2 separate regions of the Homo sapiens genome follow, and region 1 is linked to region 2. Evidence: fine-mapped expression QTL. A gene starts in region 2. The other region holds a variant in brackets. All regions are shown on one strand. Distances are from middle to middle. Region 1 overlaps APPBP2 (amyloid beta precursor protein binding protein 2). Region 2 holds the start of APPBP2 (amyloid beta precursor protein binding protein 2).

What was found. PIP is the estimated chance that this variant, and not a neighbour inherited with it, causes the effect. A credible set is the group of variants that fine-mapping cannot tell apart.
Region 1: its variant is the best candidate, but not a certain one, in a credible set for the expression of APPBP2 in monocytes after R848 (Quach 2016, PIP 0.87).

The regions. Positions count from the first base shown.
Region 1 is chr17:60,441,742-60,446,990 of GRCh38, forward strand. APPBP2 (amyloid beta precursor protein binding protein 2) reads right to left here. Exons shown (of 13, transcript NM_006380.5): 13 at 1,417-5,249. Among named protein-coding and RNA genes, the nearest start is that of CHCT1, 22 kb to the left of the region's middle. The variant A/G (reference allele first, on the strand shown) is at 2,936.
Region 2 is chr17:60,523,773-60,529,013 of GRCh38, forward strand. APPBP2 (amyloid beta precursor protein binding protein 2) reads right to left here and starts at 2,470. Exons shown (of 13, transcript NM_006380.5): 1 at 2,022-2,470. The coding sequence starts at 2,159. RefSeq lists enhancers at 1,381-2,089, 1,810-2,079 and a silencer at 2,160-2,299.

The DNA of each region.
Region 1 (5,249 bases), 82 kb before region 2:
ATTTTTTTGTATTTTTTGTAGAGACAGCATTTCACCTTGTTGCCCAGGCTGGTCTCGAACTCCTGGGCTCAAATAATCCTCCTGCGTCGGCCTGCCTCCCAGAGTTAGGAATACACATGAGCCACCACGCCTGGCCTGCCATATTTATCTGTTCATGCATTGTTAAGACATTTAGGTTGCTTTCGCTTTTGGCTACTGCAAATAATGCTGCTACACGGGTATATAAATATCTGTTCAAGACCCTTTCAATTCTTTTGGATCTATACCCAGAAGTTGAATTGCTGGATCATAAGAGTAATTGTTTTTAATTTTTTGAGCACAGGTGATAGTTTTTCACAGCAGATGCAGCATTTTACATTCCTGTCAACAGTGCACAAGGGCTCTCATTTCTGCACATCCTTGCCAACACTTACTTTCTGTAATAGCCATCCTAATGGGCATTTGTCTATAGAAATGTGCGCTTAAAGTAACTGAGTGTGGTTTGCTAACACACTCAGGACAGTATCTGTCACAGGATAAACTCTATGTTGAATACACAGATCAGCAAAGTTTACAAGTTGGAAAGAGTCTTAACACTGTAAGTTATATGGCCATATGGTAATTGCTTTCACAAAGCTCTAAAATGCTGCATTAATACCAAGTGGCAACTCAAACTTTAAGGGAAGGGTTCCCTTGATCTTTGAGCTTGACAGATGAGCAACACTATCCAGGAAATGGCATTCCACAAGGACGACGAAATCGCATGTTCAGAGGTTCAGTCATGGAGATGTAAAAAGAAACATTTTTAAATTCAGTATCACTGAAGGTGGCAGGCAGTGAAGCTGGTGCTGACTATATTCCAAGTGATGGTGGGATTTTGTCTACAATATTTTCTTCCTAATCTTTAAAAATATGGCTTCGTTTCCTACAACTGGTTTCTGAGTCCTTCAGATTTATGCTGTTTCATGGTGAAGTTTTTTAAAGACCTGATTTTACCCCCTTATTCATGTGAGGAAATAAAACACAAAGAGGGCTGGAATGACGTAACTCAGAATCTTCCAGTTCAGAGACAGCTGGAACTGAAACTCCAATCTAGGCTTTTCTTCACTATTCCAGCAGAACTTTACCAGGTCTCATCATTCATCTTCAGCCTTTAGAGTGAGAGGATTCTTAAAAGAATGGTATACTTTTGTAAAGACTAAAAAATCCCTTTGCATTAATGCAGTGCTTTGTCTTTTTCCAAGTGCTTTTCATCAGCACAATCTCCAGATGTTACCATGCGCCTCCTCTGCCACACATCTTAATTTTCTTGAACAAGAGCACTTTTGTTCTAGTTCCAACAGTTTCTCTCACACTGTTCTCTAATAAAAACAGTCTGCAAAGCTTAATCCCAACCAAAAGCAATCAAAACCAAATTGGAAACAGATACACTATGAATGCAGGAACACTATATTTATTAGGTCAATAATTCATTTTTAGCAATACAAGTACAGAATATATCACAATGCTGGTTACAAACATACTTAGTATGGTTTAATAGTTACAAATAACGGTGGGCACTACAAGTTGGTGAGAATGATATGAAAGGTCATCCTGACACAATGAAGAACCGTCTTCAAAAATCTATTTAATGACCTTAGATATTTCTATAGAAATTATTGTGGCACTATTAGTGGGGATTTTCACGTAAAGATTGTTAGTGTTTTGTTTTTAACTGTTCCATTAAGAACTTTTTATTTTGAGCCTATTAAACTAAAATCCCCTGTTGCTTAATAAAGTATAAAAATAGTACTGACCTGGTAATATTTAATAAAACGTAGCATTCATTCACATCATAAAAGTAGAACTGAAAAGTTTTAGTTACCATGGCAAAATATCTTCCCATAAAAGGAATATACAGAAATGAGTAATGTTACACAAACGGTACCTGCAATGGTTATTTAGTGATCCAACACTTAACTGTGCACCACAAACCAAGTTTTCTAGATATCTATATATAGGATATATTTTTAATCTTAAATTTTACTCTTGAAAAACATGTGCACTTCAACAAACTCACTAAGGCCACTCATGCTATAGATACCTAGGATTGCAATTAAAGAATAGTATTATGCAATAAATCCTAAAGCACACTCCTTCTGATTATCAACAGGGTAAAACCAGTTTTCTGCCTAAAACATTCCTGAGATTTATGGACAAAAGAAGTACTGTTGAAGCTGGAGATTAATCCAAATGTCATATTAACAACAAAAAATTTCCTAGCCAGGCGTGGTGGCAGGAGCCTGTAATCCCAGCTACTCGGAAGGCTGAGGCAGGAGAATCGCTGGAACCCGGGAGGCGGAGGTTGCAGTGAGCCAAGACGGTGCCATTGCCCTCCCAGCCTGGGCAACAAGAGCGAAACTCCGTCTGAAAAAAAAAAAAAAAATTTCCTGGCAACTAAGTTCCTCCACAGCCAAGAGGTGAAGTACACATCCACTTCTAAAGCAAAGATAAAACCCCAAAAACTTTGTACTTATAGTGTTTTTCCAGTAGTAACTTTGCCACCCAGAAGAAAAGCAAGCAGCAAGGCTACAAATTCTAGGGAAAACATAAAAAGTGGCAGTTAATGATACCTGTTATGAGCAAATCATTATTTCTATGTATAAAGTTTCAGCCAAAGGCTTCAATCATGTTTTGGCATGTGTTCACTGCAGTTTTCTGTCTGCACTATTAAGGAGCAGCCAAATGGCACCTTCATTATTTCTAAGATCGCAGCCTCTGTACTTAATTTTCATAAAATTATAAACTTTTCCCAACAGGCTAGGAACAAAGGTCTTTCTCAAATTATTTTCACAAGTGAAAAAATACCTGGGCAGGGGTTACTACAAAGCAATAGTGAGCCAATTTTTAACCAAGCAGAGACAGAGATTTGATGGTAGTAAGGGTCTCAATCCCTTTGGCAAAGTCAGCTTTGAGG[A/G]TCCATAAAGATTATGCTCTAAAAATTCCAATTGACTCTATTAAATGGAATGCAGGCATGAGTGGCCACCTGAGCGACACATGCGAGTGCTGACGGAGCTCCCTGATGCACCCAACTGGAGTAGCACCGAACTTTAGGAAAAGACTGGGTAGAAGAGTCAGAGAAGGATGAGACCAAAGGCCCCTAATTTAACATAACTTTGCTGAACCTCCAGAAAAATCTTTAAGTTGGCCAGGGCTTCCTTACGCACCTCACCATATGTAAAAAGTTTGCGCAAGTTAACTTATTGTGAGATAAATTTTATTATTTTCTTCAAGATTTTTAAGAAACCCAATAAATCATAGTGGCACACATCTAACTTATCCTAAACATCCCTACTTAAAGGATGAATCTTACACTTAAAGTCATAGGGTATTATTCTTCATTAGAACCAGAAATAATAGCACATTAAGTCATATCCCTAACCAAAATGGCAATGTTTTCTTAAGCTAGAGTGTATGCATTAAAGTATATGGATTTACAAAAAAACTACATTAAAGCAGTGGTGATAAGGAGAAACTGCCAATAATGATGTTTCAAAAAAACACAACTGGCTGCCAATTGACATTATCACCCTGTGATCCTAGGCTTCTACATACCATGTTGTTTTATCACTGAGTGTGAGCTAAGTTGAGTTCAAATGGAGTTAGGGAGGATGAGGCTGTAAGTCATTTGTTTATTTTTATCCTAGGAAATGCTGTATGTGCACAAAACCAAAAAATACAGATTGAAAAAAAAACTTCATATGGAAACATGTTTCAAAATATTTATTGAAAAACAATTTACCATGACATTCCTATACCACAAACATACCACTGGATTCTAAATAACCAATAAAAGTATACAAAGCCTATCCTGAAAATATCTTTGGAGGTATTAAATATATAGGCCCATGAGGATAGAGCTGAGTAACTTAAAAATGTTAGTCCTTGGTCACAAAGACTATTTGGTAATTAATAAAGAAGTGCCTCTTGACATTAGACTGCAATTAACTGAGGGGTGGGGGGCAGCTTCATAAACTGCAAGTACGTCAATTTACTCTTTCCAAAATTTAAAAAGAAAATAATTCGATTTGAGGAGTAAACTCAGGTTTCTAAATCACACAGTTACCATCTTAGGGTGTGGGTTTGCTTCATCTCTTTCAGTACATCCCCCAACCAACCCCCTCCTAGGGAACTTAAATGCAATGGCTCAAAACTAATAGGACTGCAAATAACAGCTTCAAACAAGGTTGGGAAGTTCAAAAAAGTGCTTAAAATATTAATAAAATTTGAAATCTACAACTTTTCTGTACTCAATGTGGCAGACAGCTTAGATTTTTTTCCCCTCTCACCCAACATGCATGTTAAAAGAAAACTAAAATTCAACACACATCCATTCACCCACAGACTACTCCAAGCATTAGCTAGGAGCAACATCTTTAACAGCCAAGTCATGAACCCCTGAAAATAGGGGGGGAACCCAGATTCTTAACTATAGAAGCATCAGATGGGCTACTACAGTAAGAATTGAGGTAACAGCAAAATACCTTTTTGTTTCTTGAATTGCTACATGTCACAAATTCTTAAATTTGATTATTACCTCATCATTAAATAACCTGACTGGCTTACAAAAAATCAAATCAAAACCCAATAAACAGAAAGACAAGTTAGTGAAATAGGTGTATTATTAGGGGATCTTTCCATTTGACTCCTAGATTTCAAATGAAATGACCTAGTTGTATTACTATTTACCATAAAAATGGAGGATTTTCTAAGACTTATTTTTGGGCATTCATTTTCATTAATCTCCATAAACCATACAGTAACCTAACATTTCCATCTGAACATGAACTATTTCATGACACACAGCCAATATACTTGTTAACTGCATTGATTATTAGGGCAACATTTAAAATGAGGGGGATGGCTGCAGCCGATATTTATAGACTTGCTTATGGCACTGCCATCTGTGTACCTTGACTAAAAATATGCCATTGAAATTGCCAAACTTCCCTAATTTGGTATCTATTACATAATTTTTGCATTATCCTTTTTCATTATACATCTAAATGAAATCATTCTACTGATAAAAGTATATGTAGGATCTAAAATAATAATCTAAAGCCTCTGGTCCAAGTAACCACCTTCTACATTAGGCTGGTCCTTTTTAGATCCTCCTGGTCCTGTTAGCAAATGCTATCAGAGCATCTTGCATTGTTGTACCAAAAAAAAAAAAGTCAGAAGTGCTGGTCTATCAGATTTTCTATTACATTACAGATCAACACTGGTCCAGT
Region 2 (5,241 bases):
AAAATTAGTGTTATAATATCTTTCATTAAAATAATCTACTATCTTAAGATAGATATCTAAGTAAAAGAGCAAGGAACTCAGGAACTAAATATCAGGTTTGAGACCTTAATTAAATTACTTAACTTTCTCACCAATAAAGCAAGGTTATACTGTACTCTACTTCACAGTTTAATTCTGAAGATTAAACAAAATAACACATAAAAGCACAACATAGTTACAGGCACATGTTTAACACTTCCCTCATCTTAGCACAGTGCCATACTCCCAATAAGCATACAACTATTAAGAAGTAAAAGTGTACCAAAAAGGAGCAATATTAAAACTGTGTGAACTATGTGAAACAGAAATTCTAACAAAAGCACCATCTATTCATACTAATAATCTTCAAATGAAAAGCTTCAATTAGAAGTGAAAGTTACTAAAAGATATTCAAGTATTTTGAACGAATTCAACTAGTAAATACACTTGGATTACATTCCCAATGATTTCCTCTGAGAGATTACATATGAGGTACAAGATTACACATGATTTAATAAAATGGACAGAGAGCACACACAAAGCTGCAGTTTCCCAGGCTGAGAAAGACAAATCTAATTTGTCCTTCCTGGGGAGGAATGTATCTTAAATGAACAAAATTTCCTTAGAATACACAAAAGTAAATCAATGTATCAAAGGGATTAGGAAAAAAGGGAGCTTTTTCTCGAAATCCAAAATAATAATACGCATGACCTAAATGAATCTTCTCCAAATATTTAGGGGGGAAACCCCACTTTAATTGTTAGAATTGGTGCAAAGCAGCTGGATTTAGTAGAACGCAGCCCATCAACTGCTAATTCTGAAAAAAAAAAAAAAAAAAAAAAAAAAATCTAGGGGTGGAGAAAGCAGGCAATCTTCCCAATAAAACAACTGCCACAAAACACTGTACATACGTAAGAACATAAACATCTGTTAAAATATCAGTTTACACTGTTCCAGCCAACTTACAGATCAAGAGGAAGTATTTAAGGTCTAAAAAATAAATTACATTCTACTTTTAGTCACATTTTGCATGGGTGGCTACTGGACACTAGGAGTTATCGACGCGGATTCAAGACAAGGAAGACTGAATAATAAATCCAGTGTTCACATTCAAATGTGGGGGAGAGAAAAGGGCAGGCTCTGAGTCCATAAAGTTCTCCACACTCTGAAAACACTGCAAAAATAGTCCACATCTAAGGACACTTACCCTTGAAACTCCTTGGAGAGTGGCTTGGGAGACTTGCTGTTCAGATTTTTGAGGGGGAGTGATTTAAGAATGCTGCAAGATTGCAACTTTCAAACACAGGAACATAATCTAAAGTGTTTTTTTCTTTCAGTAAAGATCTCTCCCTGTCCTCTTCAAACAGTTGATCAGCACTCCCATTTTCACAAAATCCCTAATTCAAGTATAGAGCCCCTCCTCTCCCACAAAAAAATCAAAGCTTTAAAGAATATGCAAATAAAACACACAGATTATTTCCAATAATCCCTAACTCCTTCCCAATTGGGAAAAGAAAGGAGAAACGAAGGAACACGAAGCAAAAACACCAAAACACTCGGGGAAGGAAGGCGGCGAGATGAGAAAGTAGGAATGGGTGGGGGGAGGAGCACGGAAAAAAGTCCAGCTGATGCTGACACTTAATTGGAAGGAGAGGATGGAAAATATCCTGAAGATACGGGCTAGAAGGAAAGGACTAGGTGGGACAGGGGCGCGATAGAGTAAGTCCACGCAAAAGGCCTACCCAAGAGGGCCACTGTGTAGAAGGGAACACCAACAGGGAGCAAGACTCCCCAAGATTACTTCAAGGCCCCAAAGCTTAAGAGACAGGGCATAGGGAGATGGGGTGCTTCTCCACTGGCAATGCAGACACCGCACCAGACGTTTCGGGAGGCAAGTCTGCCGGAAGGGGTGAGGGGTTAACTGCGGGGGTTCGCAGACGTGGAAGGGGGTGCGGCCCCCGGGGTTGCTGGAGGAGAGCAGAGAGGAGGCCCACGGCGCATACCTTGTAGTAAACATCAAACTGGATGTTCTCGGGCAAGGAGCGGATGTCTCGGCGGGAGCGGATGTAGTTGTCCACGACAGCGGAGATGGCGGTGTTATAGAGAGTCTCTGGGATCCACTCTAGTTCCACGGCCGCCATCTTCCTTCCCTCCTCCTCCGCCTCCTCCGCCTCCTCCTCCCGAAGGCCCCCACCTCCCTCCGTAGCGAACCCCTCTGCGGCCCCGGAGGATTCGGAGGGGCGGTGGCAGCCACGCGGGCGCACGGCAGAAGGCACGGCCGCCCTGCCTCCTCCGGGGGCAAACTGAGGGACGGCGGCAGCGGACGCAGGCCCGAGTAAAAAGTGGGACAGAAAACAGCGGCCAGCCAGGCCAAAAGCGTCACAATCCCGGTTCGAGAGGAACCCGGGTTCCGTCCCAGCGCTGATCTCTGCAGGGGCGGGGCTGCGTGTGCGGCGTCATGACGTAAGCGCACGCCGGCGCGCCGGAGGGGAGGAATGCGGCAGGCGGAAAACTTAGGAAGAGCTGGATGCCTCCCACGGAGAGCGTCCCTTCCAAGCGGCCCCGGAGTGGAGTGGAGTGGAGTGGATAGGGGTAGACTTTTCACACGGGGACAAATTATTACAGGATATCTGCGCCCCCTGTTCCGAGTCACTCGGGGCCATCGGTTACTTCAGCAGGTTCTCTGCATCACGGACCCTTTTGAGGCTCAGGTAAAAGTTTGGATCCTCTCCCCACAAACGAGCAAAATTATCTGTACATTGAAAATTATGCATTGAGAAAATTCACATTACTCTAGAAACCCTTAGACTGCAGTTCCTAACCCAAGTTAAGAACCCGCGGTCCAGGAACTAGGGGTAACGATAGAAGAGAGACTTGTTTTTCTTTGTATAACCATTTGCACCGTTGTAACTTTTTGACCATGTTTCTTTATCCAAATGAAATTTCCGAAAAAAGAAAACTCCTGCCCCAGAACTTCGTAGGAAAACTAGCTTGATTATGGAATTACAAATAATAGTAAGAGAAAAAAGGCTAAGTGGTGGCCGTGATAGGACTTAATGGTATTTCAATTCCCAGAGTTACAGTGGCGGCTTCAAGGGATTGTTGAATAATTGGGAGTACTTGTTTCAGCTTCTTTCCTTCCTCAGCCTGAACATCTGCTGTTTATGTAACTTAATTTCCTAAGTCTGCGATTTCAAGAATTTGATGCAACATCTTTCTGTTCTAGGAATTTACCATGGAAATTATTGGCCATAATTGTTGGTGACACTATCAAACTCATAGTCACTCTATAACGATGTAAGTCCAGAAAACAGCCATAATAATAATGTCCTGATTGATATTTAGAGCTAAAAGAAGTGGAAAGAGTTATTTCAATTTACCCTTCACCTGGTACTTCAGTGTTAAGTGGTTAAATAATTCCACAAAAAATAAACACTCTTAATCTTCTTCAGTCTATATAAATTCTTACTCTATACTGTGAACCTAGGAAAGCTGTGGATGGCCTCAAGATCAGATTGCCAGTTTAGCAAGTAAAAAACTACAAGGCTGGGCGCGGTGGCTCACACCTGTAATCTCAGCACTTGGGAGGCCGAGGCGGGTGGATCACGAGGTCAGGAGATCGAGACCATCCTGGCTAACACGGTGAAACCCCGTCTTTACTAAAAATACAAAAAATTAGCCCGTGGTGGCGGGCGCCTGTAGTCCCAGCTACTCGGGAGGCTGAGGCAGGAGAATGGCGTGAACCCGGGAGGCGGAGCTTGCAGTGAGCCAGGATCGCGCCACTGCACTCCAGCCTGGGCAACAGAGCGAGACTCCGTCTCAAAAAAAAGAAAAAAAAAATTACAAGTGCCCAGTCACATCTTAATGTCAGATAAACAACAAATGGTTTTGAAATGTAAGTATGTTCTGTGCAATAGTTTTGCTCATGCCTTCGGAGCCACTCAAGTGTATCAGTTCATTCAGCAAATCCTTCATCACTTCTTAGACACTGGCGCTTTTGAAGATCAGGATCCCTGCCCCACATAAAAGAATAATTATTATCTCTGCAAATATTGCAGGGGACATATTTATACTAAAAACTTATTTGTGACCAGCCTGGGCAACATAGCAAGACCCCATCTCTACAAAAAAAAAATAGCCACATGTGGTGGTGTGCACCTGTAGTCCTAGCTACTCAGGAGGCTGAGGCAGGAGGATTACTTGAGCCCAGAATGTTGAGTGAGCCATGATCATGCCACTGCACTCCAGCCTGGGTGGCAGAATGAGACCCTGTCTCAGAAAACAACAACAACAAAAAACTTTGTTGTTCATCTGAAACTCACATTTAACTGGACACCTGTATTTTATCCAGCAATCCTACCTAAAGGGATCCATGAATCCCCTAACATTGAATGCACATGTTCTTGGACATTTTGGCTAAATCAGGACCCGTATTAAGCTCCTGTAAACAGGTAAAGGTGTGTCAGACACACATATTGATTGCTTTATGGACCTTAGATGCTGAGTGTATTAGTCCGTTTACACACTGCTAATAAAGACATAGCTGAGACTGGGCAATTTATAAAAGAAAGAGGTTTATTGGGTTTACAGTTCCACATGGCTGAGGAGGCCTCACAATCATGGTGGAAGGCAAGGAGGAGCAAGTCACATCTTAATGTGGATGGCAGCAGGCAAAAAGAGACAACCGAAAGGAGTTTCTCCTTATAAAACCATCAGATCTCATGAGACTACCACAAGAACAGCGTGGGAGAAACCACCCCCATGATTCAGTGATCTCCCACTGGGTCCCTCCCACAACACGTGGGAATTATCAGAGTACAATTCAAGATGAGATTTGGGTGGGGACACAGAGCAAAACCATATGACTGAGTTAGACATTAAAAAATGTATATAGTCACAAAGGGGACTCTGGATGGAAGGGCCTCTTGATCCCTTCTTCACTGCTTTCAGATTGAAAGTTATTCAGATGTGTATGATGGACTAGGAGGTCGTGACCAAGAGCAGATAAACTGCCAGAAAGGATAAGTCCCCTGAGAAGGACTTAGTCCTGGCAGTATTCATCACCTTCTAACTGAAGAGCCCTTGGGCCCTAAATGACCAGCAGATATACCCAGATACTATGTTGAGGACCTTGGGTGAACCTCTGAGACTTGCTGGCTTCAGATGCCAGCATGGCCACAGAGGGGTAGAGCACCAAGTGGGCCCTTGGGGTTCCTGATTCCA